2 separate regions of the Homo sapiens genome follow, and region 2 is linked to region 1. Evidence: fine-mapped expression QTL. A gene starts in region 1. The other region holds a variant in brackets. All regions are shown on one strand. Distances are from middle to middle. Region 1 holds the start of DMAC2 (distal membrane arm assembly component 2). Region 2 overlaps PCAT19 (prostate cancer associated transcript 19).

Evidence for each region. PIP is the estimated chance that this variant, and not a neighbour inherited with it, causes the effect.
Region 2: its variant is fine-mapped to the expression of DMAC2 in whole blood (TOPMed, PIP 0.98).

Annotation. Positions count from the first base shown.
Region 1 is chr19:41,437,510-41,443,013 of GRCh38, forward strand. DMAC2 (distal membrane arm assembly component 2) reads right to left here and starts at 2,403. Exons shown (of 6, transcript NM_018035.3): 1 at 2,373-2,403; 2 at 709-905. The coding sequence starts at 2,390. RefSeq lists an enhancer at 2,138-2,307.
Region 2 is chr19:41,459,868-41,465,134 of GRCh38, forward strand. All of the region lies in intron 2 of PCAT19 (prostate cancer associated transcript 19), which reads right to left. Among named protein-coding and RNA genes, the nearest start is that of ERICH4, 19 kb to the left of the region's middle. The variant C/T (reference allele first, on the strand shown) is at 3,042.

The DNA.
Region 1 (5,504 bases):
CTAACATGGTGAAAACCCATCTCTACTAAAAATACAAAAATTAGCTGGGCCTGGTGGCGGGCGCCTGTAATCCCAGCTACTTGGGAGGCGGAGGCAGGAGAATTGCTTGAACCTGGGAGGTGGAGGTTGCAGTGAGCTTAGATTGCGCCACTACACTCCAGGCTGGGAGACAGAGCAAGACTCCATCTCAGAAAAAAAAAAAAAAGAGTATGGGAACAAAAACCCAGTTAGCTTATTGAGTGATTCAACTATAAGGGATCAGGCTACGAATGGTGAAGGCAGTGAGAACTGGTCAAATCTGAGATATTCTAGTATTTTATTGATGGTCTGGATGTGGAGGGCAGGGAAGCAAAGAGAGGAATTAGGGATGACTCCTTAGAATTTGGCCTGAACAACTGGGTGGGCAGCACCAGTGTTTACTGGGATGGGAAGGCTTGGGAGTGAGCAGATGTTTTTAGGGGAGAAATCAGGGTTTGGCTTTAGCCATGTTAGGTTTGAGATGCCAGTTAGACTCTGAGTGGAGCTGGTGGGTGGCAAACTGCCTATGTGAGCTGGAGTCCTTGAGAAGGGTACAGCCTGGAGATGGAGCTGCAAGAGACATCAAGGCTGGCACTGGAAGCCACAGTGCTGCCTGGGAATGGCAAGGACAGGACCTGGGCTCTGGTGGGCCAGGGTCTCCACAGGGTCTTGCAGACCAGGGATTCTCACCGATTTTTCTCATGCACCTTGTACATCTCCCTTTGGAGCAAGTAATCCCTCAGAGCCTCCACATCGTAGAAATAGTTGGTCAGGAACTGGAGTATTGTCCTTTTCTTCTTCTGATTGCCCTCTGGGGCCACTGCCGCACCCAGGCGATGGATGCCCCTGATACGCCCATTCCACATGGGGGCGACCAGGCGCAGGGACTGGGGAGGGGGAGAGGAAAGGAGCTGAGCCTGGAGCCTCCTGGGAGACACAGAGCTGGATCCCCCAGTTCTTGCTCCATGAACCTCAATCCCTCTGCTTCCCAACTCACCCTAAGTTCTTCCTTCAAAACTTCAAAACTGTCTTTGAGATTCCAAAAATTTCCCCATGTTTTTTCCAAGTTCCTCCTCCCCTTAGTGAACCCTAAATTTTCTCGACTAGCCATATATTGTTGATTTTCCTAAATTCTTCCTCTAACTTTCCCCCAAACCCTTATCACTCAAAACCTGCATTATTTGACCTCTTAATTTTCCACAGATTTGCCCCTTAATTACCCAATTCTTCTGCTGGGGTCTTCCCAAATGACTTCTTTCTTTCCCCAGAATATAATCTTAAAAACTTATCTCCAAACCTCAAGGAGAGGGTGCTCTGAGCAATCCCTAAAACCAACCAAGCTTGTCCAACCCGCCGCCTGCATGCAGCCCAACACAAACATGCAAACTTTCTTAAAACATTAGGAGGATATTTTTGTGATTTTTTTTTTTTTTTTTTTGGCTCATCAGTTATGGTTAGTGTATTTTATGTGTGGCCCAAGACAATTCTTCTTCTTCGAACAGCGTGGCCCAGGGAAGCCAAAAGATTGGACACCCCTGAACCGAGAAGGGTATAAAAAGCATGAGCTTTGAAGAGGAGAGTAAGAAAGTCGAGGGGTGTGGCCAATGGGAAGAAGCCCCCAAACTCTTCAATTTTGCTTTCAAGGTCTCCTCTTAATCTACCCCAATTTCTCTTTGCTTTAACCAAATTCTTTTTTTTTTTCAAATTATCTCGATAATTTTACCCAAACCCTTATTTTCCTCAAAAGTTTAAAGCTGCCAACCTCTTTAATTTTCCCTAAATTCATTCCTTGATTTTAAATCCTCTGAAAGAATATCTCAAATTCTCCTCTTAATTTCACCCAGATCATGCCCTTAGAACCTCCAAATTGACCTCTTGGTTCCCCCACCCATCATGCTTTTGAGTTTTCTGTAAAAATTCGTCAATCTCCCACTAACTTTCCTTACATTCATCCTTCGGTCTTCTAAGACCAAATCCCACATCCTCGAACAATCCCTTCCAAGCTCTCTTATCCTACAGGCCCCACCCTTGCCTGTCCATTAGCTCCTTGTGTCATCCCTCCCTCTGATTGGTTAGTCGCGTCGCTCTTCGGCAGCCACTCCCTCATCCCCATTGGATACTCTCAGCCAAGTCCCTGCCTCCTCTCGCTCGCTAAAGCGTCTCCTCCGCCTGCGACCCTCACAGATCCTTCCTGGCCCCCACTAGCCACAGGTTTGCACTCCCAGTACGGGGCTTGCCAGGCTTAGCCTGCTGCCTCACGGCTTTCTGCTCTCGTGGCCGCCAACAGAGGCCCTGAATGCGGAGGCTGTAGAGCGGACTTCAAATTTGGGGCTCTAGGAACTCCGGTCACTTACCGCCCAGGGAGCCGCCATCTTGCTAAGGTTTCGTAACCGGAAGGGGCCGGTCTTATCCCACGCTCCTGGTTCAGCGCGAACTTATTCTCCTGTGGCCACGCCCCGCGTTTTCTAACCGTCCTCTTAAAGGTGCACGCACTTTTTACTCTTAAAGGGTTTAGGGATTGCTCACAGCGCCCTCTCCCTGAGCTTCAAAACGAGACACAGGTCGGGCTCACGCACCTGTGAACCCAGCACTTTGTGGAGGCCGAGGCGAAAGCATCGCTTGAAGCCAGGAGTTCGAGACCAGCCTGGGCAACATAGGGGAGCCTTTATCTCCACAAAGAAATAGGGCAACCTTATATCCACAAAAAATAAAATGTTAGCCGGGCGTGGTGGTGCACGCCTGTGGTCCCAGCTACTCACGAGGCTGAGGCGGGGGGATCACTTGAGCCGGGGAGGTCGAAGTTGCAGTGAGCTGTGATTGCGCCACTGCACTCCAGCCTGGGTGACAGAGCGAGACGCTGTCTCTTAAAACAAAAAATTGAAAAACAAAACAAACCCCAGGACTCCACAATCTTTCCCTAGGAGAAGATGGGGTGTTCTTCCCGGCAGAGTACCTTTCTTTCCTGACTGCAATTGCAGTCTCCCCAAGCTTTCTTATTCTTCCAGCTTCCACTCACTACCTCCTAAAAACAGGGAATGAGGGGGCTGAAAAGCTGACCACGTCATTTTTAAAAATTAGGGTCAGGTAAGAGAGTGGGTGAAGAGGTTAGATGTCAAGGTTAGAGACTGAGGTGAGATCTCAAGACCAGTTTGGAGTTGAAAGCTAGATCGCAGCATGAAGAGCCATTGTGAAGTCTTGTGGATAGAATTATTCATTCATTAGTTCCAAGAATATTTACTGAGCACCTACCACGTGATGGCAGGCACTGTTCTAGATGCCGAGGTTACCATGGTGAGCAGGACAGACCCAGTCCCTCTCTCAGGAAGTCAACATTCTGGGCTGGGAGAGGATGGATGTGGGAGAGGATGAATAAGAAACAAAGGAATCAGCAAGGCAATTTTGATGAGAAGCAGATAAAAAAAAGTGACTGGGTGTAGGGCCATCAGCAAAGGCCTCTCTGAAGAGGTGACATTGAAGTAGAAGTGAATGATAAGGAAAGAGCCATTCAAAGATCTAGGGGAAAAGCGCTGCAGGGAGAGGTAGCCTCTAGAGCAGAGAGGCCTTGAGGTGGGAACCAGCTTGCAGACAGAGATAGGAGACTGGGTTGAGAGGTGGGCAGGGGCTGACGGTGCAGGCCTGGTAGGGTTTTATTCTATTCACAGTGGGAAGAAGGGAGTGTCAAAATCGGATTTACATTTTGTAAAGATTATTTCTGCCAGGTGGAGAATGTACCTTAGAGCAGCGGTCCCTAACCGTTTTGTTACCAGGGACTGGTTTCGTGGAGGACAATTTTTCCATAGACTGGGGGTCGGGGGTGGGGTGGGGATGGTTTTGGGATGAAACTGTTCCACCTGAGATCATCAGGCATTAGATTCTCATAAGGAGCAGGCAACCTAGATCCCCCGCACGCACAGTTCACAATAGGGTTTGCCTCCTATGAGAATCTAATGCCACTGCTGATGTGACAGGAGGCGGAGCTCAGGCGGTAATGCTCACTTACCCGCTGCTCATCTCTTGCTGTGCGGCCCAGTTCCTAGCAGGCGAGGGGCTGGTACTGGTCCTTGGCCCAGGGACTGGGGACCCTTGCCTTAGAGGGCAAGGGTGGATGCAGGGGACCAGTAAAAGAGGCTGCTGTAGCAGTCTAGGCAAGAGATGAATGGGGATGGGGCAGAGGGAATGGTGAGAAGTGCTCAAATCCTGGGCCTGTTTTGAAGGTTAAGCCAACAGATTGAGAAACTAAAAGCAGACGGGCGTGGCTGTGCACGTGAGGAAACTGGAAGGGCAGCAGGTTTAGGAAGGTGGGTGTGGCAGCTGAATAACGAACCCTCTCCCCATACCTGTGAATCCCTGGGCACTGTGACTATGTTACTTTCTATGGTAAAAGGGACTTGGGGCTGGGCGCGTTGGCTCACGCCTGTAATCCCAGCACTTTGGGAGGCCGAGGTGGGCAGATCACCTGAGGTCAGGGGTTTGAGACCAGCCTGGCTAACATGGTGAAACCCCGTCTCCACTAAACATACAAAAATTCGCCAGGTGTGGTGGCGTGCACCTGTAACCCCAGCTGTTCAGGAGGCTGAGGCAGGGGAATCGCTTGAACCCGGGAGGCGGAGGTTGCAGTGAGCCAAGATTGCACCACTGCAGTCCAGCCTGGATGACAGAGCGAGACTCTGTCTCAAAAAACAAAATACATATATATATATATTGTTCATTTGTTTATTTTAAGATGGAGTCTTGCTCTGTCGCCAGGCTGGAATGCAGTGGCGTGATCTTGGCTTACTGCAACCTCCACCTCCTGGGTTCACACCATTCTCCTGCCTCAGCCTCCCGAGTAGCTGGGACTACAGGCACGCGGCAGCATGCCCGGCTAATTTTTTGTGTTTTACTAGAGACGGGGTTTCACCATGTGGCCAGGATGGTCTTGATCTCCTGACCTCGTGATCTACCATTATATATATGTATATATATGCACCTTGGGTCTGAAGGAAGGGTCCAAGGCCGAGAGAGGCCTGCAGTGCTTCCCAGACTTTTCCACAGCAGAAGCCCTCACCCTCAACAGGGATAATATACCCATAGGCAAGTCCAGGGTCAGCAGAATTGGCTGCTTGGCCCTAGGCCAGCAGCCTGGACACAGGCACTCCAGCTAAGGGATTGCTGTCTTGGTGCCCCTGGGAGCCATTCCTGCCCCCAAAGGCACACTGGTGGGAAAGCCCTAGGATGACCCGTGCCAAGAGGACAAGCAAGGACCAAGCTATGGGCAAGCCAGAGGTCAAATGGAGGCTGAGGAGAGGCTGGAGAAGTGGTGGTGGGGGGCAGGTGGAAGGACAGAGGGTGCCAGGCATCTACAGACACTGAGCGCCCCTGAGGGGTCAGGCCTGAGACAGGCAGGGAAGGGTGGAGTTAGACCTCTGCAAGAGGCTATGTTTGAACCCTGTGAGCAGAGTTGAGGTTAGACTTCAGAAGGAAAAAGAAAAGCACAAGGCCAGCTG
Region 2 (5,267 bases), 22 kb after region 1:
ATCACAGAAGGGGTTTACACCTTTTCTGATATTGGGAGCAATATTATCCTCTTCTCTTCTGGATATTAAAAACAATATCAAAAGGTCGGTGTACAGCCCCTGTGATATTGGGAGTAATATCATCCTTTTTCCCCATAAATATTAAAATTAATATAATTTTCTTCCCCCTGGCTATTAGGCACAATATCACAAGGGTGTGTACACCCCCTTCGGTATTAAGCGTAATATCATCCTCTCACCCCCTGGTTATTAGAAACAATGTCACGGGGGAGTGTACATCCCCTGCGATATTGGGAGTAATATCATCCCTACCTCCCTGGATATTAGAAACAATATCACAGGGGAGTTGTAAGCTTCCTGCGATATTGGGAGTAATATTATCCTCTCCCCTTCTGGATATTAGGAACAATATCACAGGGAAAGTGTACACCTTCTGTGATATAGGGAGTAATATCATTTTCTCCCCCACTGGATGTTAGAAACAATATCACAGGGAAGGTGTACAGCCCCTGCCATATTAGGAATAATATCATCCTCTCCCCTCATGGATATTAGGAGCAATATCACAGGGGAATGTACACCCCTTGCGATATTGAAAGTAATGTCATCCTCCCCTACTCTGGATATTAGGAACAATATCACAGGGGTTGTGTACACGCCCTGCAATATTGGGAGTAATATTCTCTCCCCCACTGGATATTAAAAACAATATCACAGGGGGTTGTACACCCCCTGCAATTTTGGAAGAAATATTATCTTTTCTCCCCGTGTATATCAGAAACAATATCACAAGGGGGTGTACACACTCTGCGATATCGGGAGTTACACTGTCCTCTTTCCCCATACATATTAGGGACAATATCAATACGTGGGTGTACATCCCCTGTGGTATTGTTCTTAATATCATCCTCTGCCCCCCTATATAATAAAAACAATATCACAGGAAAGGTGTACATTTCCTTTGATATTGAGAGTGATATCATCCTCTTTCCCCTTAGATATTATAAACAATATCACAGGAGGGGTGAACACCCCCTGTGATATAGGGAGTAATATCATCCTCTACCGCCCTGAATATAAAGAGTAATATAACAGAGGGGGTGTACACACTCTGTGATATTGACAGTAATATAATTCTCTGCCCCCCAGATATTAGGAACAATATCAAAAAAGGGGTGTACAACCCCTGTGATATTGGGAGTAACATCCTCTCCTTCCCTGGATATTACAAACAATATCACAGGGGAATGTACACCCTCCCCTGTGTATGGGGTAGTAATATAATTATCTCCCCCACTAGATATTAGAAACAATATCACAGGGAAACAATATCACTGCGATATTGGGAGTAATACTATTTCTCCCAGCCCGAGTATTAGAAACAGTATCACAGGGGGAGTGTACACTCCCTGCAATATTGAGAGTAAAACCATCCTCTCCCCACTTGGATATTAGAAACAATATCACAGGGAAGGTATACGTCCCCTTAGATATTGGGGGTAATAGCATTCTCTTTTTTCCTGGGTATTAGGAGCAATATCACAGGGGTGGTGTACACCCTGCAATACTGGGGGTAATATCATTCTCTTCCCTTTTGGATATTAGGAACAATATCACAGGGAAAGTGTGCACCTTCGGCGACATTAGGAGTAATATCATACTCTTCCCTCCTTGATATTAGCAACAACGCCACAGGTTTACATCCCCTGTGATATTGGGAGTCATATCATCCTCTTTTCCCCTTGATATTAGAAGCAATATCACAAAGGGTGTATTCATTCCCTGCTATACTGGGAAGAATATCAACCTCTTTTTTTCCCCTGGATATTAGGAATAATATCCCAGGGGGAGTGTACCCATTCTGCTATATTGAGAGAAATATCACCCTCATTTCCCCTGGATATTAGAAACAATATAAAAGGGGGGGGTGTACACTTCCTGTGATATTGGGATTGATATCATCCTCTTCCTTTTTGGATATTAGGAACAATATCACAGGGGGGTGAACACTCTTTGTGATATGGAAAGTAATATTATCCTCTCCCCCCCTGGATATTAGGAACAATATCAAAGAGGGCATATACATCCCCTGCGATATTGGGAGTAATATTATCCTCTCCCCCCCTAAATCCTAAATATTAGGAGCAATATTACAGGGTGGAGTTTACAACCCTTGCAATATTGGGAGTAATATCACCCTCTCCTCCCCTGGATATTAGGAACAATATCACAGGGATGTGCACACCCCCTGCAATATGGAGAGTAATATCATTCTCTCCCTTCCTGGATATTAGGAACCATATCACAGGTGGGGTTCACAACCCCTGTGATATTGGGAGTAATATCATCTTCTTTTTTTCTGGATATTAGGAACAATGTCTATTGGGGGAACTAGCCCCCAATATTTCAAAGTAGGTTCTTTTCTATTTTCCTTAAGTGTCACCTGGTCTGAGAAATAAAGTGAAAGAGTACGAAAGAGAAATTTTACAGCTGAGCCTCCGGGGTGACATCACATATCGGCAGGTTCTGTGATGACCACCTGATCTGCAAAACCAGCAAGTTTTTATTAGGGACTTCAAAAGGGGAGGGGGATACGAATAGGGAGTGGGTCACAGAGATCACATGCTTCAAATGGCAATAAAAGATCACAAGGGCAGAAGGGCCTAGCAAGGTCACAAGGCCAGGGAGAAAATGGAATTACTATTGAGGTTCCATGTCCTGCTGTGCACGCATTGTCATTGATAAACATCTTAACAGGAAACGGGGTTCAAGAGCAGAGAACTGGTCTGACTAGAATTCGCCAGGCTGGAATTTCTAATCCTAGCAAGCCTGAGGGCACTGCAGGGGACCAGGGTGTATTTCATCCCTTATCTTCAACCACATAAGGGATACACCCCCAGAGCGGCCGTCCATAGGCCTCCCCTAGGAATGCGTTCCCTTCCCAGTGATATTTCTCCTACTCATTTTCTGCAATAAGAAAAATGTGACTCTGTTCTGCCCAGCCCCACAGGCAGTCAGACCTTATGCTTATCTCCCTTGTT[C/T]GCTGAACATCGCTCTTATCCTGTTCTTTTTCAGGGTGCCCAGATTTCATATTGTTCAAATACACATGTTTTATAAACAATTTGTGGAGTTAATGCAATCATCACAGGGTCCTGAGGCGACATACATCCTCAGCTCACAAAGATGATGAGATTAAGAGATTAAAGTAAAGACAGGCATAGGAAATTATAAAAGTATTGATTGGGGAAGTGATAAATGTCCATGAAATCTTCACAATTTATGTTCAGAGATTGCAGTAAAGGCAGGCATAAGAAATTATAAAAGTATTAATTTGGGGATAATATCCCTGTAATATCCCTGGATATTACAAACTTTACCACAAAGGGGTGTACACCCCCTGAGATATGGGGATAATTACACCTTCCCTCCCCCCTTGATTTTACGATCCATACTACAAGGGGGTGTACACTCCCTGCAATATGGGGAGTAATAGCACCTTTTCCCCTGCTGGATATTACGAACCACAGGGGGGTGTACACCCCCCTTGATATGGGGAGTCATAGTGTAGCAGGAGGAGTCGCGGACAAAACCCCACAGACACCGAGGTAGTGAAGGAAGTGGCTTTTAATCAGCTGGAAGCATCGAAAGACTAGCGTCTCAAAATCCGAGCTTGTTGAGTGCACAATTTCTGTCCTTTTTAAGGGCTCACAACACTAAAGATCTTACATGAAAGGGCCATGATTGATTGAGCAATCTAGTGGGTATGTGACAGGGGCTGCAGGCACCGGTAATCAGAGTGAAACAGCACAGAACAAGAAATTTCACAATGTCCTTCCATACAATGTCTGGAATCTATGGATAACATTGGTTGCTAGGTCATGGGTTGAATTTTAACTATCAGGCTAAGGTCAGGCAGGCCCAGGCCTGGTTTCGGGTCTGGTTTTGGGTCTGGTGCCTGGCGCCGGGCTGCCTGCTTTTGGTTTCACTTCCTTGTTTCTTCTTAAAACAGGTACTGAGTATAAAATAATATAGAACAATATGGGGGGTCTCTTTCTCTCTTCTTTTGATAGCATCCCCTCACCCCGGATATTACGAACCATACCATAGGGGGGTGTACGCCTCCTGCAAAATGGGGAATAATAGCACCCTCTCTTACCCTGGATATTTCGAACCATACCACAGGGAGGTGCACTCCCCCCACGATATGGGGAGTATGGGGGTAACAGTACCCTCAATCCCCTGGATATTACGAACCATACCACAGGGGAGTGTACATTTCCAGCGATATGAGGGGTAACAACACCCTCTCCGTTCCTGGAGAATACAAAACATACCACACAGGGGTGTACACACCCCGCGATATAGGGAGTCATAGCATCCTCTCTCCCCCTGGATATTAGGAACCGTACCGCAGCAGGGTGTACATGCCCCGCACTGTGGGGAGTAATAGCACCCTCTCCCTGCCTGGATATTATGAACCATACCACAGTGGGGTGTACACCCCTTGCAATATGGAAAGTAATAGCACCCTCTTTCCTTCTGGATATTAAGAACCATACCAAAGGGGGGTGTGCACTCCCTGCGATATTGAAAGTAATATTATCCTGTTCCCTTCTGGGTATTAGGAACAATATCACAAGGGAATGCACATGCCCTGCGGTATTTTGAGTAATATCATCCTCTCCCCTTCTGAATGTCAGGATCAATATCACAGGGAGGTGTACACCTTCTGCGATATTGGAAGTAATATCATCCTCTCCTTTTCTGGATATTAGGAACAATATCACAGAAGGTATGAACACCCCTGCTATATATCCAGTAATATCAGCCTCTCCCCTCCTGGATATTAAGGAGAATATCACGGGGGGGGGGGTGTAATATCATCCTCTTCCCTGCTGGATATTAGGAACAACATGACAGGGTGGGTGTACACTTCCTGGATAATGGGATTAATATCATCCTCTTTCTTCCTGGATATTAGGAACACTACCATAGGGGAAGTGTAACCCCCCTGCAATATTGGTAGTAATATCATCCTCTTTTTCCCTGATTATTATGAAGAATATCACAGCGGGGATGTACAATTTCTGCTATATTGAGAGTAATATCATCTTCTCCCCGCCTGAATATTAGAAACAATATCACAGGAAAAATACACACCCTCTGCGACATTGGGTGTAATATCATACTCTTTTCCCATGGATATTAGAAATAATATCATAGGTGGGGTGTATACCCCCTGCGATATTGGGAGTAATATCATCCTC